Linked DNA regions of Homo sapiens: all the other regions are linked to region 2. The links come from fine-mapping of genetic effects on gene expression. A gene starts in region 2. Each other region holds a variant in brackets. All regions are shown on one strand. Distances are from middle to middle. Region 1 has its middle 26 kb from the start of OSGIN2. Region 2 holds the start of NBN (nibrin). Region 3 overlaps NBN (nibrin). Region 4 overlaps LOC124901974 (a long non-coding RNA gene).

What was found. PIP is the estimated chance that this variant, and not a neighbour inherited with it, causes the effect.
Region 1: its variant is the best candidate, but not a certain one, in a credible set for the expression of NBN in whole blood (TOPMed, PIP 0.50).
Region 3: its variant is the best candidate, but not a certain one, in a credible set for the expression of NBN in Th17 cells (Schmiedel 2018, PIP 0.72).
Region 4: its variant is the best candidate, but not a certain one, in a credible set for the expression of NBN in nasal epithelium (TOPMed, PIP 0.69).

Annotation. Positions count from the first base shown.
Region 1 is chr8:89,873,293-89,879,862 of GRCh38, forward strand. No RefSeq gene overlaps it. Among named protein-coding and RNA genes, the nearest start is that of OSGIN2, 26 kb to the right of the region's middle. The variant T/C (reference allele first, on the strand shown) is at 3,124.
Region 2 is chr8:89,981,925-89,988,186 of GRCh38, forward strand. NBN (nibrin) reads right to left here and starts at 2,743. Exons shown (of 16, transcript NM_002485.5): 1 at 2,601-2,743; 2 at 798-931. The coding sequence starts at 2,637. RefSeq lists enhancers at 1,836-2,175, 2,307-3,103 and a silencer at 2,296-2,495.
Region 3 is chr8:89,939,842-89,944,841 of GRCh38, forward strand. It overlaps NBN (nibrin), which reads right to left. Exons shown (of 16, transcript NM_002485.5): 14 at 3,412-3,525. Among named protein-coding and RNA genes, the nearest start is that of OSGIN2, 40 kb to the left of the region's middle. The variant G/GA (reference allele first, on the strand shown) is at 2,916.
Region 4 is chr8:89,881,875-89,888,444 of GRCh38, forward strand. LOC124901974 (a long non-coding RNA gene) reads right to left here. Exons shown (of 2, transcript XR_007061001.1): 2 at 4,180-6,570. Among named protein-coding and RNA genes, the nearest start is that of OSGIN2, 17 kb to the right of the region's middle. The variant C/T (reference allele first, on the strand shown) is at 3,409.

The DNA of each region.
Region 1 (6,570 bases), 110 kb before region 2:
CTGGTCAACATGGTGAAACCCCGTCTCTACTAAAAATACAAAAATTAGCCGGGCGTGGTGGTGGGTGCCTGTAATCCCAGCTACTCGGAAGGCTGAGGCAGGAGAATTGTTTGAACCCGGAAGGCAGAGGTTGCAGTGAGCTGAGATCGTGCCACTGCACTCCAGTCTGGGCAACAGGGCAAGACTCCATCTCAAAAACAAAAAGCAAGCAGACAAAAATTTTTTGTTAAAGTTTCAGGTAAGGGTTTGTGAACCTGTAGTCATATATTTTATTTAATTTAGCTGTACAAAATTGACATGGTGTATTTTTAACCCATTTATTGCATTACTTACTTTGCAGTTGGCAGTCTGGTCTCTGTTGAGTTAACAAAATGGAATATAGTATAAAGCAAATAAGCACCACATTCATATAGCTGAGGCCCACAGAAGCAGAAAGAACTATGCTAATAAGTAAAAATACCAGGATCTTTAAATGGAACTCGGCTAACACATGATAACTTTTTTTTTTGGTATTAAACTTATTTTGTCTAAAATATAATCAAATCCTAAAAGCTTGCATTATTATTAGACCCATTTCCATCTAGAAATAGCGACTGATTGATGAAATCACTAAACAAACTCCATGCTGGAAATCTTAATCATTTGAGTTATTTCTTAAACCCCTCTTTGCTTCAAATACCTTATATTCCCCAAGCCCTACAGTCCCTCCTTTGAATAATATAAATGGGACCTTTATGCCTTAAGTAAACAATGAAACATGCTTTGTCTTTTAGAAAAACATTCTGCAGAAATTTTCCAAAATAGAAATAGTATGTTTTCTTCACATTTTAACTGTGGCAAATGTTCTATTTGTACAATCTAAAAAAAAAAAGTCCCAATTGTTCAGTGTAATATCTGACAATCCACAAGAACCAAAACTATAGTGAGTGTCAAAAATAGGCTGGGCGCAGTGGCTCACGCCTGTAATCCCAGCACTTTGGGAGGCCGAGGCAGGGGGATCACCTGAGGTCAAGAATTCAAGACCAGCCTGGCCAACATGGCAAAATCCCGTGTCTACTAAAAATACACAAATTAGCCAGGTGTGGTGGCAGGCACCTGTAGTTCCAGCTACTCGGGAAGCTGAGGCAGGAGAATCGCTGGAACCCAGGAGGCAGAGGTTGTTGCAGTGAACCAAGATCGTGCCACTGCACTCCAGCCTGGGCAACAGGGCAAGATGTCATCTCAACCAAAAAAAATAAGTAATAAAATAAAATAAAATAAAATAAAATAAATAAAGCCACAGCAGTAAGCATGTGAATAACAAAAGAATCTTAAAATTTGTTAGGCCAGGCGTGGTGGCTCATGTCTGCCATCCCAGAACTTTGGAAGGCTGAGGCGGGTGGATTGCTTGAGTTCAGGAGTTCGAGACCAGCCTGGGCAACGTAGCGAAACCTCATCTCTACTAAAACAAGCTGGTTGTGGTGATGCATGCCTGTTGTCTCAGCTACTCTGGAGGCTGAGGTTGGAGAACTGCTTAAGCCACGGTAGGTCAAGCCTGCAGTGAGCAGTGATTGTGTCACTGCACTCCAGCCTAGGGGACAGAGTGAGCCCCTGTCTCCAAAATAAATAAATAAATAAATAAGAATAAAATAAAATTTGCTTAGCAAAGAGCATAACACTACAAATAGCAAAAATTAAAGTATTATTTAAGCCAGCTTATTGGATTTATGCTTTTTCTTAGGTGTTTAAAAATCAATTCTAGTTCTTAATAAGAATTACTTAAGTTATGGAGTTGTATTTACTAAGATATCTAAAATTAAAATAACATCATCAGGATGCTGATCAAAAGTTGTAAATTTTAAGATCAGTGAAAACTGTGAACTACAAGGTTTTATATTTTCTTCTAGTCTGGCAGGAGGTTTGGTTATTATTTTATTACAATTCATTTCTAGTCTCAGAACTGTTGTGTTAACTGAATAGTCACAGGACTAGGAAGAAGGGAAGATACTTTTTTCCCTCCTCTTTCTCTAGCCTAATATTCTGGCTAATTTTTAAGTGATTTTTATATTAATCACATGCCTACTGCTGTGATTTTACTTTTCACTCAACTATATTGCCTCTAGCCCTACTTCAGAGCGATCACTCTATCCCCTTATCCTTACCATTTAATAATCTCTCCCCAATATTTGGTCCTAATCTGTGGCAGTGCAAGAACCTTGGCAGTGCAAGAACCATGGCACTCAGAGGTACCAGGGTAGTTGGCAGTAGCAGCCACTGATTTAAAATAAAAAGCAATGGAGAAGCGGACCACAAACCAGCACCAAGTCAACCAACAGGCATAACCAAACTCCTCTTGACTGCTGTCCAATGCTCACTGTCCCCTGAACCCCATCTTGTCCTAAAACATACACTCTGAAAAAGGCATGTAAAGAGTCAGCTCTGGGAGTTCCAACAGTAGTGAAAAGAAGTAGTAGCATAACATCATCATTAAGGGAGATCTCACAACTGCTAGATATTTATGCTTAAAACAGTATCTTGTAGCATTATACACGTTCATATATATATGATCATTTCCCATGCTCAACAATTTTCTAAGGCAGGTAAATCAGCGGAAGAAAAGTAGAGAAACTGAGATACGCAGTGATTTCTCCAAGTATACATGACTAGGTGCATATGGCACTGATGTTTTCAGAGTATAGTGGTTTAGAGTGTACTGGGGGTCCAGACTTTGAAGGTTGGAATCTTGATTTCACCATTTCTGAGCTATGTGATCTTGAGTAAGTGATTTAATCTCCTTATACTGTACATGGGGATTTTCACTGGGTTGTGTCAGGACTAAATATATTAATATATGTAAAGCACTCTGGGACAGTGGTCAAGCTAAGTGTGTGCTTCTATTCACTTCCCAGGAAATAGCATTTTCTAATCTCTTGATTTAAGTAAAAAGAAAAGTCAACATTTTTGCTTCTGGATTACACTGCTTGTCCAATCTTTAGATAAATAGCCAGGTAAGATTCTAAAAGAAGCAACTAGCCTGGGAGAAGCAACTGTCCTAGGAAGGCACTAAATATAGAAGGTAAAAAGGTAATCACTCACCAGTAACAAGCTCAGATGGCAAAAATCCACCTGCTCCCAGAATGTAAA[T/C]GAGAAGCCTAGTTGCTTTCTGAGCTGGTCAGGCTGCACCCTCTCATTCCGCGTTAAGTAGTAATCTACCCATCCTTTAAAAACTATTGTTAACACTCTATTATCTGAAGGGAAGTCAAGAATTAGATCCTCCTTGGCTTCGCTTATGTCCAATGAGTGATATACAAACATGATTTGTTATTATTAGGAATAAAATACTTTTTATAATAAAAATATTTACTTGGTGGTGTGAGGTATACATGGATTAATATGTACAATCCTCTTAGAAGTGCTTGATGTTAATTATTAGCATGTGCCCTCTTCCTTATTTTTACCCACCGACCCCTGACAATCATGCCAGTCACACACTCAACCCTGCTTTCAGCTGCTTTCACTAAATTACCATAATACCTCTGGGACAACAATCTCAAGATGTAGTTCACTGTTCTAACTTCCACATTATCCAAGGTCTCATTAAGGGTTCATCTAGGGAAGAAGCCTGTGGGACATTTGAGATATCTGGAAGTGGCTAGGTGTCCTTGCTGTAAACCCATCTGTGTCCTAGGGTAGAGCCCTCCCCCATTTCAGTGAGGTGTGAAGAGTCTTTGCAGAGGGCTTTAGGAATGGACTGTTGTGAGCTTTCCTTCTCACTCCCTGTTCCCATCCAGCCCCTTGTGCTCCCATTACCAACCACATTTCTAAATTTTCATTTGGATTGCTTTATTTCTGACCTAGCTTAGCTAGCCATTAAGCTCTGTCTTATTTATATAATTATGAGGTTGATTTTTAAAAAGTATATAAGGGAAATATGAGTCTTAAATTTTTCTTAAAAAAATTTTTTTCTAGCTGTTTGTCCACGTTTCCATGTTTCAATTTTCAGAACAAATTAGTTTTTCTTAAGACATTCTCTGCAGAAAGACAACACTGCATACTCAAATTCTTTTATTTATTTAAAGATTGTGTCATTCCAGATAAAGAACTTGTTTTTCTGGTAAGAAATAACTTACCTTAAATGAATTCCTTATGTCTCTTAAAGCAGGGAGGAGCCTGATCTCTAATATAATCTGTGAATGTAACATCCATTAGAACACAACATGGTTTGCTTTCCACTCTTTCATTTAAAGAGTTTTATATTAGACCTTGGCCGTATATTTGGAGTGGAGGAAGAGAACTGTGATAGAGATATGGCCATGACCATCTAGCTTTCTCAATGGACAACTGGATTTGATACAAAAAGACCTCAACCCTGAGCCAACCCAAACCTGTAGTACACTGCGGGATAAAAACACAGAAAAGAGCCAGGTGCGGTGGCTCACGCCTGTAATCTCAGCACTTTGGGAGGTCGAGGTGGGCGGATCACAAGGTCAAGAGATCGAGACCATCCTGGCCAACATGGTGAAACCCCGTCTCTACTAAAAATACAGAAATACAAAAATTAGCTGGGCGTGGTGATGCGTGCCTGTAGTCCCACCTACTCAGGAGGCTGAGGCAAGAGAACTGCTTGAACCCGGGAGGTGGAGGTTGCAGTGAGCCAAGATCGGGCCACTGCACTCCAGCCGGGACAGAGCAAGACTCCGTCTCAAAAAAGAGAAAACAAGCAAATGAACAAACAAAAAAACCCAAAGAGAAGAGTTCAGAATGGGACTTACCTGGTTTTGATGTTTAAGTTAGTAAATCCCATGTTTTATGCCTAAATGCTCAACAGGAAGGAATATAATTAAATGTTATGATATAAAACAATAGTGTACACTATTAGGAAATTATTAAAATAAGATTTTAAAAGAATATTTAATAAAATCAGAATTTTAAAAGTATGTGTATATATATCTAGTATATGTTTATATCGGTACATATATGTATATTATAGAAGGAAATATACAAAATATTAACAGTTGTTACATTTAGTGGTATGCTTCTTATATCTCTAATTCTCTTTTATTCTTTCTTTCTTTTTTTTTTTTTTTTTAAAGAGTCTTGCTCTGTCACCCAGGCTGGAGTGCAGTTGCACCATCTCAGCTCACTGCAAACTTTGCCTCTTGTATTCAAGAAATTCTTGTGCCTCAGCCTCCTAAGTAACTGGGACTACAGGCGTGCACCACCACGCCTGGCTAATTTTGTATTTTTTGTAGAGATGGAATTTCACCATGTTGGCCAGGCTGCTCTCGAACTCCTGACCTCCAGTGATCCACCCACCCTGGCCTCCCAAAGTGCTGGAATTACAGGTATGAGCCATCACATCTGGACTCATTTTCTTTTCTTTTTTTTTTTTACAGAAATATATACCCTTTTTCTTAATTTTCTGTAATGACCATATATTACTTCTAAAGTAGAAATTTAAATATATTTTAATGGAAGAGGGTTATTAGCTTAAACATGTTTGAAAATTATAGAGAATAAATGTTTTTAAAAACATTCCAGGCTGGGCATGGTAGCTCACGCCTGTAATCCCAGCACTTTGGGAGGCTGAGGTGGGTGGATCACAAGGTCAAGAGACTGAGACCATCCTGGCCAACATGGTGAAACCCTGTCTCTACTAAAAGTACAAAAATTAGCTGGGCGTGGTGGTGCACGCCTATAATCCCAGCTACCTGGGAGGCTGAGGCAGGGGAATTGCTTGAACCTGGGAGGCGGAGGTTGCAGTGAGCGGAGATGGTGCCATAGCACTCCAGCCTGGCAACAGAGTGAGACGCTGTCTAAAAAAAAAAAAAAAAAAAAAAAAAAAAACCACTCCAGATGTTTGATAAACCCACAATGTCTCTTCCTAATAAAATTCATTTTTCAAGAATTGCTAAACTGGCCAGGTCAGTGGCTCACACCTGTAATCCCAATGCTTTGGGAGGCCAAGGCAGGAAGATCATTTGAGGCCAAGTGTTCTAGACCAGCCTGGGTAATGCAGTGAGACTCTGTCTCTACAAACATTTTTAAAAAAAAATTAGCCAGGCATATTGGTGTGTGCCTATAGTCCTAGCTACTCAAGAGGCTGAGGCAGGAGGATCACTTGAGCCTAGGAGTTTGAGGCTACTGTGTAGCCTGGGCAACAGAGTAAGATCCTGTCTCAAAAAAAACAAACAAAAACAAACAAACAAAAAAACAAGACAATAAAAAACAAACAACCCAATAATGGGCAAAAGATTTGAATACCCACTTCACTAAAGAAGATATATGAATTGCAAATAAACACATAAAAAGATGCTCGGCCAGGCGTGGTGGCTTATGCCTGTAATCCCAGCATTCTTGGAGGCCAAGGCGGGTGAATCACCAGCTCAGGAGTTCGAGACCAGCCTGGCCAACATGGTGAAACGCCGTCTCTACTAAAAATTGAAAAAATTAGCTGGGCGTAGTGGTGGGCGCCTGTAATCCCAGCTACTCTGGAGGCTGAGGCAGGAGAATCACCTGAACCCTGGAGGTGGAGGCTGCAGTGAGCCAAGATCGCACCACTGCACTCCAGCCCAGGTGACAGAGTGAGAT
Region 2 (6,262 bases):
AGGTTATAGGCTAGTGTTTCTGACTTACAGTAACAATTTTACTTTTTCTGTAGAAATTTCCAAAATGTTTTTCTATACCTAAAAGAACAGAAACAAAACCTAAATAAAACTGAAGAAATTCATATCGCATATATGCAATCTTTGATTAAAATAATGGCTCATCTTTCTTATTACCACCAGCGTTATCATGAGTACAGATATTCCTATGTATTTTTTTTAGCACTTTTATCACCCAAGGTTATGATCAAAACAAACTGAAAGCCATTTAAAGGAGCTGTGGGGCATAAGTAAGCATTTCCCTAATAAAACAAATCAATTCCCATTGCAAAAACTTGTATTATATGAGAAATGCCCGTTTCCACACAGCTACATAACCTCTTTAAGAGCCAGAGTCATGAAGGTCTGTTCATTGTTCTATTCGCAGGGTTGGCACAGTTACTGACACATAAAAACACATTACTGCTAATGGCAAAAACAGCAATTACTTTTGCACCAAACTAATAGTAAACAATAAATGTTTAGTAAGCAAATAAAAATAACTATGTCCTACTTCCTCTGAGTTTCTAACTAAAACAAAGAGTAAATTACTGAAATAGAAACTTCAAATCTCAAAATGAACAAATACCACTGGTACCACTGCCACAATATAAGTATTTAATTTTGTTAACATTAAAAAAGTCTACACAGCTCTATAAAATGACAAATCCTGTGAACTCTCTCTCACATACAAACCAAGAGAATATTTTGTGATTTCAACCCCCTTACTGGAAACTAGTGAAATAAAATTAGTAACATACCAGGTTGGTTACAGAAAAGTTAGCAGTTAACACAGCATGATTTCGGCTGATCGACTGATCATTTTCAATCAGAATGGCACAGTTTTTCCTTCCAACAACGTACTCAACGCCAGTCAAAAGTCTGTATGGTTCTCCTGAGATAAATTTTTTTTTAAAAAAAGATAAGTTGATAGACACATACACATGTACACGAACACACACATACATGTAAGTGTATATGATATAGGTATGACAAATATTAAATAAAACACCTTTGTTATTCAAATGTTAGTCAACTTTACATATGTCAAACTTGTGTTTTCAGTAAAGCCTCACTGAAGGCTATCAAAGGTTATCTAACTATGGTGTTTCAGGAGTAACAACAACAAAATTTAAAATACAATAAAAAAGAGAAAAAGAAAAAAAGGTTATCTAAACAGATAGAAGGCTACATCATTTTTCTAAAGGGAAAGCAATGCTGAAAGGAGTCAATGTTCCCTCAAATTAACTTAAAAACTTAATGTATTACCTAGCAACAATCACAATATTATGTTTGGAACTTGATAAACAAAAATATCAGGAAACTATAAAAAAAGATGCTCAAGCCTGTAATCCCAGCTACTTGGGAGGCTGAAGCAAGAGAACTGCTTGAACCCAGGGGATGGAGGTTGCAGTGAGCCGACACAGTGCCACTGCACTCCAGCCTCGGTGACAGAGTGAGACTCCGTCTCAAAAAAAAAAAAAAATCAAGAAAAATGTGAATAATATAATAGGAGCTTGCCCTACCAGATGGCAAAATATGCCATAAAACTAAAAGTATGGTACTGGACCATGAGTAAACAACACAGACCAATGCAACAAAGTCCAGACTAAGATGCACGTGTACATTTTTTGAAAATTTGTTTTTATCTTAAAGATAACATCTCCAATCAGTGGGAAAGGGTTATCAGTTTCTTTTAAAATTGCTGTAAATCATAAGTTGTTGGAGTAACAGTATATATATTGGAGACATGCGGAGTTGAGTCTGGGAGCATAATTTCATTACCCGAGTGGCAGGGAGATTAGGGCAGATAAAGAGTAGGGAGTCCAGAAGAGCCAGGTCTCCAGGGACGCCTTGACCTGTGAGTCTTCACAGTATAAAATTTATTTAGTTTGGCGCTCTCCATACTCTCTTACCCTGCCAGTCCATTTAGTCTCTACATAGATCTTTGCCAATCATCATGTAAACTTCCCGAGGACAAGACCCTTCACACCCACCACGGGCAACCAATTAACATGTGATCACATTTCACACCGCTGGAAATGAATGGGAAAAAATCGACTTTTCCCATTGTTCTGATGACATTGTGGAAAAGGAGTCTGAAACAAAACTGAAAGTAAGCCTTTTCGTGGTAGTCATTTCCCCAAACTGTCCAGTAGTTCTTCACAAGTCATGTGTGGCCCCCGTGTGGTCCGCCCATGCTAACTTCCTGCCGGGGGTTCCCACTAGGCGCCTGCTGCCGCTTACCCGCAGGCCATCCAGCCCTAGCGCTGCAACGGCGCGGGGGTGAGGCTGGGAGGGAGGGGGAGTCAGGGGAGGGGCGCGGAGGACTGCCACCAGGGGGCGCCGCAATCACCCCACCGCCCGCGCTGAATTCCAGCTCACAGCCGCCGTGCTGCCCGGGAAGAATATGCGCTTGCCATACAGCGTACTCGCCGCTTCTGCGACCGCTTCCGCAGCGTCCCCGGGCAGGAACGGACGCGACGCAGGAATCACCCGCAGGCCCTCCCCCGAGGCAGTCGCTACCGGGAAAATAGGCCCCGAGGCTTCCCTTCTGCCCTTACCTCCTGCCGGGCCCGCGGCGGGCAGCAGTTTCCACATCGGTCCGGCTCCTCAGGGCTGGGGCCGACGTGCAACCGCGTAACCGGGGCTGCTAGACGAGCGCGGATACGGCGCCTGCGGTCGGCATGGGCTCCGGGACGTGCGCGCTCCCGGGAGCCACGCAGGCTGCCTTGGATGAGGCGGGAGTGCGACTTGGGCGCTTGCCCGCCACCTGGTGGTTGGAAAAGGAACAGCACAATCTGTATTGAAATGTGCTGCGTTAAAAGGGTATGTTTCTAAGGTGTCGCTGAATGTAAGGTTACTACCTTTCCTGATTATGAACGAAAAGAATTTTAAAAACTAACTCCAAAGCAACATAAGGAAAATTTTTAATTAAATGCATTAAAATACTTACCAGTTATGTAGTTTCGTGCGTTTGCAGTTTCTTAAATTGCAGGTATTCCTTTGGAATCTAGTAATGGTGATAATAATGATGAAGATAAGGATTTCACCTCGAAGTAAACTCATTATTTTTACTCTTTTCTAAGTTCAAATCAACTTGTCTTAACGTCTTTATTTCATAATGCCACACTTTCAGCTAATCACATGCTAAATACTGGGCAGTCTCCTGTATTTAATACCCTTCCTTTCCACTTCCACCTGTCTCAAGCTGGTTCAAGCTCTCCTCCTAATTCCAGTAGCTTCCCAACCCATCACCACCCACGTCCCACATAATGTAGTCTACATCCTGCGCACTACTAAATAAACATCTGAGAGCACACTCCTGATCACATACATTTTGGCTTTCAAAAGCATTCTGTAATAGGGGGGAAAAGTCACTTTAAAAAGGCTTGTTTAGGCCCAGCACCATGGCTCGCTCCTTTAATCCCAGCAGTCTGGGAGGCCAAGATGGGAGGATCACTTGAGGCCAGGAGTTCAAGATCAGCATGGGCAACATGGCAAGACCCTGTCTTTATAAAAAATTTTAAAGTTAGCAGGGCTTGGTGCCATGCTCCTGTATTCCCAGCTACTCAGGAGGCTGAGGCAGAAGGATCACTTGAGCCCAGGAGTTCGATGCTGCAGTGAGCCATGATCATGCCACTGCACTCTAGCCTGGGCGATAGAGCAAGACCCTGTCTCAAAAAAAAAAAAAAAAAAAGGCTGGTTTACCAATCTCTTATCATCATAGATGCAAACTCCTAAGCACAATATTAGCAAATTGAATCAAGTAGTAGTATAAAAAGAATAATCATAACTAAGTGAGATTTATCCAGAAACAAAAGGGTGGGTTAACATTGGGGGAAAAAATAAATGTAATTCATCATAATAATTTTAAATAGGAGAAAAATCATGATTATCTTGATAGTAGCAAAGAAATTGATAAAATTAAGCACCCATTTAGGATAAAAACCTCTCTGCAAAGTAGGAATAGAGAAAACATCCATGATCTGATAAAGGACATTTACAAAAAAAACTACAGTTTACGTTATACTTAAGGTAAATTATTGAACATTTCCCCATGACATCAGTAATGAAACAAGGATGTACACGCTCTTACCACTTATTTTCAGCATGGCTTTAGATGCTCTAGCCAATGCAATAAAGGAGAAAGAGTAACAAAAGACATTCAGATTGGAAAGGAAGAAATAACAGTCATTATTCACAAATTACACGATTGCCTATATTGAAAATCAAAAAAACTGTTGGCAAACTATTTTAATTAATAAATGAATTTAATAAGGTTATAGATACAATATCTAGATACAAAATTTAATTGTATACCTTTATTCCAGAAAATAAATAGAAAATTACATGTTTAATTATAATGGCACCAAAATAATCGAGTGCTTGGTAATACATCGATCAAACTATGTAATACAAAACATGATTGACTACATAACATTATTGACAGAAAGTTTAAAAAGTCCTAAATAAATGCAAGGATAATGGATCATGTTCACAGATTGTTAAGATGTCATTTCCCCCAAAATTGTTCTATAGATTCAATGTAACTTCAGCAATCTCAAATGCTTTTTTTGAGTAGAAATGGATGAGCAGATTCTAACATTTATATGGAAATGCAAATGCCTAGAATAGCCAAGGCAATTTTGAAGAACAAAGCTGGAATATTTAAATTATGAAATACTAAGATCTATTATAAAGTTACAGTTATTAAGTCAGTGTTTGCTTGGTACAAGGATAGAAAACAGGCAAATGAGTCAGAATAGAGGGACCTAAAAAAAGTGGACACATAAGGTAATTTGATTTTTCGAAGGTGATTACAGGGCAACAAAGGAAAGTCTCATGTGACCCCACCCCACCCCACAAATAAATGATCCCGTTTATTAACGTGACACAAGAAATGTGTTAACATAACACAGGAAATGAAGACTGATCCCCCTAATTCATTTAGATGAATTAGAATTCATCTAAATTCCAGATGAATCATTATTTACATAGGAAAGTAAAATAATAAATATTAGTGGAAGAAAACATGATTTCAAAGTAGGCAGATCTTTCTTAAGTAGGACACACAAAAGTATGCCCTGCATCATAGAATCCCTAAATTTCACTGATTTAGTGAAGCATCAACATTTTGCAGGAATTTTCTTCCACATTCTGAAGTATACATATCTCACCAAGGCCTCCAACCTGTTTGCCAAATCCTTACTCATCCAATCTGGTGAGCATAATACCATCACTGTAGTAGAACAGTGGATGTTCTGCAGCATGTCCAGACACTTCAGGTCTCTTGGGAATACATTATGATAGAGGTTAAGGAGATACAGCTTAGCTCTGGGTCAACATTGCAAGTATTTTCTATTATTTTTTCTAATTAAATATGAGCACTTTTGGATTCTACTTTCTGTTAAGGTTGGGGAAGCACATGTCATCATATCAATCACCCCAAACCTGTTGCCTGAGGTCATGTTGTTCTGCTCTTGTAAAGATTTCACATCTGGTACAGCAGCTCTAATTGGGGTTATTACTTTGTTGATTGCAGTAGTCGGCTGTTTATTCTCCAGGAACTGTTAGGCTTTTGTAGGTCAAGTATGATGAATTAAATGGAGATAAAAAGGGAGCCAAAAAGAAAGCACTAATATCTATCATTCCCCTATATTGTTCTTGCTCACTGTCATGGCTGTACAATTTGAGGCTGCTCCCTGTTGGCCTTGCCCGCGTTGATAGTTCTTACCCTACAGGCCAAGGAGCTGAGGTGGGTATTGTAAGAACTACCAAGGATGTTCATTTCAATTATATATTTGGGAACTAGGAAAATGACCACCACGTAAGTCTATGTGTTCGGTGGACCCACTGTATGCCAGACCTGGACAAGGACTCCCTTAACTCTCTGGCTTCTGAATACCTCTGCTTTAACCAGGAGTCATAATATTTTGGGTTCATGGGTATCAATAATGATCATGTCCCACAGCCCTCCAAGTATTTGGGCATTCTCTTTTCCTCAGTGTATGATTTTCCAAGCGAATGGCTATAGGTCCCTTAAGGGAAAGACTGAGAGTAGGGTGGGGTGCGGGGAGGTCATTACCATATATTCTTGCTATGGGATTGCAGGGTCCTTCTTACTGGCAGTCCTGCCTCTCCACCAGTCAATGGGTTCTGGATTGGCAAAGTGGCTCAAATCAGGAAATTCGGAAAGAGACTGTGACTTTTTGTTGAGGCTGCT
Region 3 (5,000 bases), 43 kb before region 2:
TAATAATGCTAGGTTATTCTCTTTTATATAGGGCACACTCCCTGGTATAGGACATTTAATTAAAATCCCAGGAGACAGCTAGCCCAAGCTGCACACAGCTCCAGCTGAGCCTTTCCTCTCCCAGATTCAATGTCTTCAGACAACAGAAACTAGATGGGATATGCCATGTGCCACTGACTGTTTCAGCATAATGCCATACTGACAGTGAGGCATGAGGGAATTCTGTTCTTTAATTTTTATTTTATTTATTATTATTATTTTTGAGATGTGGCCTTGCTCTGTCACCAAGGCTGAAGTGCAGGGGCTCAATCATGGCTCACTGCAACCTTAACCTCCCAGGCTCAAGCAATCTTCCCACCTCAGCCTCCTGAGTAGCTGGGACTATGGGCACATGCACTACCATGACCCGCTAATTTGTTGTGTTTTTTTGTTTGTTTGTTTAATTTTCATTTATTTATTTTTTTGTAGAGACAGGGTCTCAAGATGTTGTGCAGGCTACTCTTAACTCCCGGGTTCAAGTGATCCTCCTGCTCCCAAAGTGCTGGGGTTATAGTCATGAGCCACACCATTGTGCCTGGCTGAATTCTGTTCTTATGGGCAAGACAAGAATGTTAGAAGTAATTTTGATTATACTGAATTTCTGTCTCACAAACTGGCTTCTGAATGTAATCCCTGCATGAGATGGCATATGATCCTTTATGTAGCAAACAGAATATCTGGAAAAGACATTTCCCTTTACTCAAGTGAAGGCAAAAAACAGAAAAGCTACTCCATCTACTAGAGGAAAAAAAAAAAAAGGGATATTGGAACAGAACATGCAAAAAACAGATAAAGAACCTAATCTGCAGGAAATAATAATCCACGAATAAAAAGTAAAATAGAAACATGAAAGCAATGAAATAATGACAAAAAATCAGATAATAGAACAATGAAATGAAAAAAGAACAAATGCTAAGTAAAAGAACCATAATAACAGCCTTTCAGAATTAAATTAGAAATAGCTAACACTTCCCACTGTTATAAATGATTTATATGTAGTATCTGATTTAATCCTCATATGTCTGTGAAATAAAGGTACTATTATTATTCTCATTCTGCACAGATGGAAGCAGAGACATTAAGTAATTTGCCTAAGGTCACATACTTGGTGAGAAACATTATAGACACACCTGAAATGTAAAATTTTGATACAGTGAAAGAGCCTAAGAAAACCACAGTGAATGCAGAAAAAATAGATGTGGACGACAAAGGTAATCCAATGAAAGGATAGTTATGTCTTAAATGTCTTATAGAGAGCCCAGCAAATATAAAATATTTAAAATATATAATAGAAAAAAGTTCCTTGAGAAAGAGAATTACACCTGCAAATCAAAACAGCATACTATATGTCAGGAAAAACTAATGGAGAATGATCAACACTGAGATGTATTCTGAGTGTTACTGGCTTTCGAGCTTAAGAAAGATGACTGGTCATGCATGCAAGTCACCTAAAAAGGGAAAAACAGGACTGGCATAAGGTAAGGGAGGCTAGGTGGGAGGAAGTACTAATAATGTCCTCACTTTTCACTGTAGCGAGCCAACAAATAATTGTATGTGAAGTTAATATGAAGTTTAAAACTACCCATTCCGACTTACAGTGATTTTTATAGTTTTCCTCCTTAATATTAGACAGATCTCACAAAATAAAATATCTTGGAGGGAAGAAACATTTATAGAAATTCAGCAATGCCTTCAGTTTAACTTCCTCCTATCAATGTCTCTCTCTTCCTTCCCAGTCTGTCCCTGCCTCTCACTACTCCTCAATGAAGAGATGTCTGGAATATTGTTCACTTAACTGTTTAAATAGGTAATTTCTGGGCTTTAGGTTTTCACATCTTCATTCTTTGTGTACTGCCATAATTCTGTGGAATGCACATGTTACAAAATAAGCCAATTATTCTTTCAAAAAAGAAAAGGAGAAAGGATGTGATTTCCATTCTTTCATTTTTTAAAAATAAGTATCCTGAGTGACCTTAACAACTCTACTTTCATAAGTGACTTTCCTAAATAACCCTTATTTTAAAATAACTGAGAAAAAAGCACTTTTAAAAGTGAATTACACTATACCCACTATAAAGCAAAATAAGGAACCCTGAGAGGTTAGCAAGGACCACAGTCAGCTTTTGCCTTGCCCTATGAGTATCTGCAAGTCATGAAAAACCTGAACTCTGCTTTAATGTCTATACGGGGTATGAGTGATACGAAAGAAAACCCAAGATGTTGACTTTAATAAAAGACCCAGCACTAAAAGAAGAAAGAGAAATAAACCTTACAACACAGAAGGAGCTAGGAAAGAAACTTGCCCATCTTCATTCTGGCACTTAGTGAAGGAAATAAATAAAAATCTCATTTGAAGTTTCTAATGATAAGCCAGCCTTCATTCACTCCAGCTTCTGGTCCAAATATTAATACATACTAACTGTCTGGGTGATTCAAAGAATCACAAGGAGAGATTTTAATTTGAAGTGGTCTCATATTGGTAGAAGACTCGAAGATAGAAAACGTATCTTTTCTAGAGGAAATACATCTGAACTTAATACTCAAGAAAACCCTACAGATCGAGTTACAAAGAAAACAATCAGCTCATATTCAAAAATCACAAAGCACAAACTTGAAAACAAGGTACATAAGAGCAGAAAACAGATCAAACATTTTAGGTAATGGTATCATTAGGCAAATAATATAAAAGGGGAAGCTTGAAAAACAGCAAGGAACAAGAAGATTTAGAAAGAAATAAAACAGACTTCCAGTAATGAAAAAATAAATGAACGGATGCAATGCCAACTAGAGTTGAAGACAGTAGTAGTAAATCGGAAGATGATCTGCAGCAGTTGCCAAAAATATAACCCAGGGAAACAAAGAAATGAAATACACAG[G/GA]AAAGACAAATGGAAAAGAAAATTTAACTTACGTTAAGTTGGAATTCCAGAAGGAGATAATGGGGAAAACAGTAAAAAGGTAACTAATATTCAAGAGAATGAATAAGAAATTTTCAGAATTGTTAAAACACAATCCCCAGATTTAAAAAGGCCAGTCCCTTGACATACATTTAAGTGATATATTTGTAATATCCTCCACATTCTTTTAGTTTCCCTTAAATTTTTGTGGCTTTTATCTCCCCCTTTTCATTAGGATGTAAACTGAATTTCTTAGGTCTCACCTTTTTTTTTTTTTTTAACAAAAATAAATTTAGTATTCTTTTAAAGAAGTGTTATGGAAGGGTATAGATTAATGCTCTGTAACTCAGGAATGCTCCTGAATGAATGACTTTATGTCACTTATTTTAATTTGGTTTTAAGAAGAATTTGCTTGAAGGCCACCATAATGGACCAAAGTGCAATTTAAGCAAGTTTCTGGGCCTCACTTCCTACTAACCTCCATTTCCTGCCTTAGCCACTCTTCTAGTTCTGTATTCTTTCGAGCATGATGAGCTATTAGATCTGATCCTCCAATGATGTGTGGAAGTTTTCCTGCTCCAGGATATGTGACCTATTGAATAATAAAAGTAGTACAGTAAATCATATTAACAAACAAAAATGACCATTTTTTTAAAAAGATTAAAAAGCAAAGATGGTAAATCATGCATAAGTGCCAAAGATGTTTATATTCTACAAATAAAAGTGAGAGCAGTAACTCTGTTCTAAACCCATCTGTTTTTGCCCTTCTTTTATAGCTATTACTATATACAGATCTGGACATGTCATGGGATTTATGTATTAAAAATAATTTAACACTTTTCATTTGGAGTTTTTATTTTAAAATGGCCTTACCTTATCATTTAACAATTAAAGCAACTCAAGATGAACACAAACACTACAATTCAAAGCACTGTATTTTGTTCTAATGACTTCAAAGCTTAAGCCCTTTCTAATATTGATGAAAATTTAAATCTTTTTCAAAACTTTCCAGTTCACAGAGTCCAAGCAGGAGATGTTGGGGATGCCAACAATTTATACTTCTAATTGATATTTTAATTGTTTACTAGTAAAGAGGTGCTTTAAGAAAAGAAAATTCCATGTGAAAATGCCCATCAAGATCATTGTTAATACTTGTTATTAGTTAATAACATTGTTAATAGTAACAGTTCCTTAATATTTGTAACATGCTTTTAAAATTCCAATATATGAAGTAGAAAGAGAATTTTAAATTTATTTTCACCCCTAAGCAGTATTTTAAAAGTTTAAAAAACGCTATGTCATTGATTTGGAGGGTTTTTTGTTTGTTTTGAGACAGGGTCTCACTCTGTCACCTAGGCTGGAGAGTGCAGTGTGAGGAGAGAGAAAATCACCTGGTGACCATGGAACAGGCCCCAGAGACAAAACTTCTTCTCTAAGCAATTTAGAAGGGGGCAAAGACCAACCGGTGACCATCAAACAGGCTAACTGGAGGCAAAACTCCTTATCTGGGTAATTTAGAAGTAATCAAACTTCCCTAGTATCTAAAGTCGGCTTCTGATTCCAGGCCTCTTTCAACTTTTATAAGTAACTAAAATTTTTATACATCTCTGGAATGCCATGGTGAAACTCATTTTACAATCCCAAGCTCCCACCTTAAGGTCCATAAATGCTCCTAAGGACAATCCGCCACAGTGTGCTCAGTCCTCTCGCTGAGGCACCCCTCTGCATTCTTCTGCAGTGTTCTTCCTTTCTAATAAACTTTCCTTTTCCAAATCTATACTGTTGTCGGTAAATTCTTTTCACCAACCCGCAAGTTGACCACTTCCTGGTGCTGGGGCTCTGATACCTGGCCCGGCACAGTGGTGTAATCTTGGCTCACTGCAACCTCCGCCTCCTGGGCTCAAATGATCCTTCAACTTCAGCCTCCTGAGTACCTGGGACTACAGGCAGACATCACCATGCCTAGCTAATTTTTATATATTTTTTTGTAGAGTTAGGGTTTCACCATATTGCCCAGGCTGGTCTCGAACTCCTGGGTTCAAGCCATCCACCTGCCTTGGCCTCCCA
Region 4 (6,570 bases), 100 kb before region 2:
TTTTACTTAATTCAGATTTAAAAATAGGCCTGCTTTGTTCCATGTGTCAGTGTCAAATGTATTGGTTTTCCTAATAGTTCAGCCTATCTAGAACTTTCTTGGCTTTTGCTAGTCCTACTCTTATGGAATGGAATTCTGACTCTGAGTAATGAATAATTAAATGTAAATGCTTCTGCTAAAGTGGTTTCATTGGCTGTTAACTAGATGCCAAATAATAATAAAGGTATTAAGTATTATGCATACCAGCAGTGAATTCAAGTTCAAAGTTCTGGCTTGAACCTTTTGGAAAAAAAATAATTTTACTGTGCCCGAGGAATGATGGTCATTTAGAAACCACATAATATTATTAGACTAAACTGAGCCAACTATTTCAAGGGGGGTGGGGAAAACGAAAAATTCTTTACTTATCATCACCTTTGTATCCATGATACAAGTAAATGTTATTATAGTGATAAGGAAATGATTAATAAATCCAATCAGAACTCCTAAGAAACAATAATATAATGAAAGATTAGAAAGACTTACAAATATTAAATAAATCAATGAATTGTAGGTTAACATGTCAACACAAGCTGATATTAGAAAGACCCCTTCCTCCCAATACAAACACATGGATCAAATATAATAATGGAAGATTTGGTTGTAATGTCAAGCTTGAAATTGACAGGAAAATCTCCAAACTAAATTCCCTGCATACAACCAGGAGTCGTAAGGGGCTGATCATCCCATGAAATGAAAGAAGCTCAGCCACTGACCCTGCCTAGGAAACTGTAAGGAAGCTTTGCCCTCTGTCTAAAATATTAGGTGGAAAAGAAGTCACCCACTGGAAGCCAGCACCTCCGCCTGCAGGTAACTGTGGAATGATCCTAAACTGAGATGTTTGCATTGTAACTGGTCCAGGTATGGCAAAATCCATCAGCCTAGGCAGAGGCAAATGTGAAACTACACTGTGGTTCAGATTCCATATCCTGAGTACATAACAAGAATGCCCAAATCAACCCCCTGCTGGAGAAGAATTTACAGTTGGAGATTATAATCTGTTTAAGGAAATAAGTGAATCACTGTAAGAAAGTATTAGCCAGACACAACAAATAGGAGAATTTGTAAGCCAAGGAAGAGAAAAAAGGATATAGTTTAGTTGTAAAGATACTTTGAAATAAGTATTTGTAAGGAAGGAAGGAATACAATGACAATGAAAGAACAAGGCTGTATTGTAAGTCAGAGCAGGCAGATTTGTACAGGAGCCAAACAGAATCCTCCTGCAAATAAAATATATACTCATGAGAAAAAAAAAACACTTCAATGGATAGAGTTCAAATCTCTTTTCTTTCATTAGTTTATCTACAACTCTGGTGGTCTTTTGTTACTTAACTCTGGAGATTAACTCTTACATACATGTTTTTTTAAACAGGAAAGACTAATTTCCCCTGCCACCCTGGAATTGCATATGGAAGACTAGATATGCTTTACATCCTTTTTTGGAAATTGATTGCAAACTCTAGTTTTGAGCTCTGGATGCCACACTAAATTTCTAGCATACTTAACATGAGTTTTCATTGATTTCTATTAAATTAACATAAAAATACACACAAGCACATTTCTTGGCACTCTCCCAAAAGGACACCCTTTTCAAATATCCTAGTTATAGTAAAGTAACAGGTAATTATTAGTTAATCAAATCATTATTTTAACTGTGTCATGACTGGTACATATTCTAAAACAAAATTTTAAAAATAACAATTTACATTTATAATTAAAACTATGATTTCTGGTACTTATAAAATCTGTTTTTAGTCGCAGAACAAGGAAAAAATATGGATATTCTAGTAATACTATGCAACTGATAATATCACTATTACATAAATGAAAATTATCTTATTTTAAAAATAGTTTTGCAATTTAAATACCTTAAAATGCCAAGTTAATAATTATTCTCCTACCATAGAAGCATATCAAGAATAAATTATATAATGGTGGAAATTCATGTTTTCTTTCCAAATAACCTTGTATTTGGTATATTTGGCATTACAGTTCTTTTTCAATTCTATAGAGAATAAATGCAAAATTGTAGTGGATGTTCAACAGGAATGAGAGTCTTCCAATAAGTCACTGTTACTTGTTAAGTACCTCTTGTGACTGATATCCAAATCAAGAAGCCATGTAACAATGAATATACATACTATACATATGCAAGAACTGCTAGGTCATACAAACTTTTATTGACTGGGGAGACTAGTCTTTTAAAATTAAAAGAGAATAAAGGGCAAAACAACAAAAATACACTTAAATGGAAAAAAATAATATTAGTGTCTTTATAAAAAGCATCCTACTCAGTGGCATAAATTTAAATTCTGAACGCTCTGGGGGGAAATGTAGGAAATGGGTCCCTTTCCAAATATAATTTTGCATCTTAAAATTCAAAGGACCCATCAGCACTGAAGAAGATTAGGTAAAAAGAACATCAAAAATACAAAGAACAGTTGTATTTATTCTTTTTTTTTTTTGAGATGGACTCTCACTCTGTCTCCCAGGCTGGAGTGCAGTGGCGTGATCTCAGCTCACTGCAACCTCCACCTCCCGGGTTCAAGTGATTCTCCTGCCTCAGCCTCCTGAGTAGCTGGGATTACAGGCACATCCCACCATGCCTGGCTAATTTTTTTTATTTTTAGTAGAGACATGGTTTCACCATGTTGGCCAGGCTGGTCTCGAACTCCTGGCCTCAAGTGATCCACCCAACTTGGCCTCCCAAAGTGGTCAAAGTGCTGGGATTACAGGCATGAACCACTGCGCCCGACCAAGTTGTATTTATTCTAACGCCTTTTTTTAAAAGATAAAACGGATTAAGGGAAGGTAATGTATTTGCAAAATACTGATTGGATAGGTTTATACAGCACCAACCATACAGCAATATTTAAATCAAACTCTGATAAAAAAATGAAAATAATTTTCCAATGGTGAATATTCTTAATAACTTTGCTAATAAAGGCTGAGAGACTGAATATGCAAATGGACAATGGCCAGAACATATATAAAAATCAAACTTTGACCAACAACCTTTAGCAACCTGTCCAGGGAAGCAACCCTCTTATCTACAATAAACAGTCAAGAAAGCCAGTCTGATGTAAGTCAGAATTGCAGGAAGCCAGGTTGCTATCTCTAGTGAAAATCCAGGAAGCTAAACAAAACAATCAGTCCCAAATCGTTAGGACTTGATTAATAACTGACAGCTTCCCTAATTGTTGTCCCCACTTCCAACTTAGAACCAACTAGATAAAGCCAAATATGTACCCTAATCAATCACATACATGCTCTGCTTCTGGTTTGCCTGTATCCAGTACCCCCATGCCAACTGCCTCTGATCAGGGCATCCCAGAAGCTTTTCCACTCTTTTGCCTGCTTTTGAGTGTC[C/T]GCCAAAATGCCAGTGAAAACGGCCGACTCCCTTGCTATAGCAAGCTCAGAATAAATAGCCTTTGCTTTTCTCATTTTATTGGTCATCATTTATTTTCACAAATGCATGTAAACAGAAGGTATTACTAAAGTTAGTATTTCATAAAAAGTTAATCATTTAGCTCTTATCATGAATCACACACTGTATTAAATGTTTTTGCACGAGTTATCTAATTTAATTTCATAATAAATATAAAAATTATTACTGAAATTGATATTACTATATTCATTTTACAGATGAGGGTACTGAGGCAGAGAAATATTGAATAATTTGTTTAATACTGAGATAAGGGCCAGTGCAGTGGCTCACATCTGTTGTAATCCCAGGCCTTTGGGAGGCCGAGGCAGGAGGACTGCTTGAGTCTAGGAATTTGAGACCAGCCTGGACAACATAGCAAGACCCTATCTCTACAGAAAAATAAATTAAATAAATAAAATTATAGAAAAAATACTGAGGTTATAAGCAGTAAATCAAGGGTTAAAATCAAGACAATCTGATTCCAAAGGGGATAGCTCTTAACTACTATAGTAAATTGGACTTGAAATATGGAGATAGCTGCATATTTTAATTGCTATCAGAAGAAAATAAAAAACACAAAATTAACATTTTATTGTATTTCAACCTCACATGTGGTCACAAAGTACTATATAATAGAAGAGAAAAAAATTGAATTCATTTATATCAACCTCTTTCTTTTATAAATAACCTAAGTGACACTGAGAGGAATGAAGTACTTTGATCAATATTACATATTTATTTAACAGACAACATGAGATTATAGCCCAGATCTTCTGACTGACAGCCCAGATATCCAGCAGGCTTCATAGGGGTACAGAATATTTGCCTGGTGAGGTATATAATTCTTCAAAAAACTTTATGCAAGCGTGTAATGCTAGCACATTCCAAACATATTACATAACATGGGTTAACACTTATCTTTTATGGAGATAATGAGTTAAATGCTATTTGAGAGGCCACTGAAATTCAACGAGTATTTATTGAGTGCTCAGTCATGTTCGGTATTGTTCTAGATACTTAAGTTTCATCAGTGAATGAAATGAAAAATACCTGATCATATTTGTTTACATTCTAGTGGGTGGAAACAAACATTACACAATAGGTACAAGAAGTGGGCAAATTCTACGTTAGACACTGATAAGTGCTACGATAAAAAGAAAGTAGAGCAGAGTGAGCTTGGGAGTGCCATTTTGGCGCCTGGCGGGCAGGTCAGTCTCATTGAGGAGGTGAGGTAGTAAGCTATGCATATAGGAAGGGAAAGTGTCCCAGGCAGAAGGAACAGCCAATGCAAAATTCTGAGCAAGTTCTCTTCCTTAGAATATCAGGTTGAAAATCGTCGACAAAGTGGTTCAATGCTCTAATCTGTTTTGCCCAATTCAATCAATTGTGCAGAAATTGCAGGTGACTTTTATATTAATGATTTGAATCATGGGACTGAGGTCCCTTCACTACATTTTCAATTTATTTGGTAGTGGTGGGAGTTGGAAGGAAGAGCATCAAAAGGGGAAGAGGTGGTGCCTGGGCATCGATGTTTTTAAAAGCTCCTTGGGTGATTCTAATATGCAGCCATGGTTCAGAGCCACTATTCTGGTACAGGTGGGAAAGAGAAGGGTGTTTTTTTTGTTGTTGTTGTTCGTTTGTTTGTTTTTCATTCCTGTTCTTAGTAGTCTGCTCAATATGCTCATCAGGCTTGCTGCTCGAGTTGTCACCATCTGGAACTCCAAAACTACAAATCCCCTTCACAGAAATCCTGGGACCTCCCGTCAACCCCACTGGAGGTGAAACACAGGAGAGGTCATATTTCTTCTTTATGGCTCCATTTGTGAGTTCCCCATAACACCAACAAACAAGACTGTGTATGGGTGTGAGACGACTGAAAAAGTTGTTAGAGAATGAGAATGTAAGAGGAACGGAGAGAAGAGGGTAGCAACATGGTTGGCATAAAGTGCCTAGCAAAAAGTTTTAAGAACAAGTTTCTCTAATATTCAATTTTAAATCTGGCACTGTGGTGACAGAAAATATCTCACGTCCTCAAATCTTCAGTAAAGTCGTTTCATTTACATGTGTTTGGCAAACAGTAAGTGTCTGTTAGATGAAAGAACAAATGAACTCAAGGGGGCGAATGCAAAAAACAACAGGCCCCCAACCCAACCCTTTCCAATGCCTCCAGTGTTTTTCCCAGAGGCAACCACATTTACCTCATTGTTTTTAGTTACCCCATCTGTAAACAATCTGCTCATGCTGTGAATTTTTGATGTCTCAATCTTAGATGTTGCATACTCACTTCCTGCCAAGATAGATGAAGATTTAACTACATTAAACCACCACAAATTTTCCCTACTCATAACAGCTAATAAATTATATCACTAGTCAGCATTGCACTTATTACATTTGCAACTTTAAATAATGTAACTCACAGTTCTTGCTTCAATATAAACAATCCCTCTTCACTTTGCCAGATAAGAATTTTGTATCCCTTACCCTTGTCTTCATCTTTGGTTCCTTTATTACACTATCATGCTTCACATTTACAACCTGTTTTGTAACTATAGTTAAGCAATTCTTGCTTTGCCTACAGGTGGACTGTATTTTTGAAAATCAGTAAAGGCTATTTATGCTACATCTGTGTAAACAGTATTCACTGTCCATGAAAGTTACCTTCTATGTCTCTATTTGTTTTTTGGTACAGCTTTTTGTCATATACCCTACTCAATTAAATTATAAATTGCCTTTTTACTTTGTCTTGAATTGTCTTCCTTTATGGCATCATTAGACTAGATTCTTCCAACATTTCCAGAATACTAGCAAATCCAGGAACTCCTTTTTTTCTACAGGCAGTTCTTACAGTCCTGAAGTCTTTCAATCTGGATAGACAGGCTTCCTGTTGCATAACTATCCTGGAACTTGCGTTCACTGCATTTCTGAATTTGTTCCACTGTTTCACAGACCCAATCCACTTCATTTCCTTCAACAAGTCCCTTGTTTTCTTGGCCTGTATTCTCAAGAAACATCCTAAAAAAGAATATTAGTGAGGCAAAGCTTTCTCAAAAGTTTGGGTTTCATTTTCTTTTTCATTCTGCCCACATTATTTTATCAATAGTTTG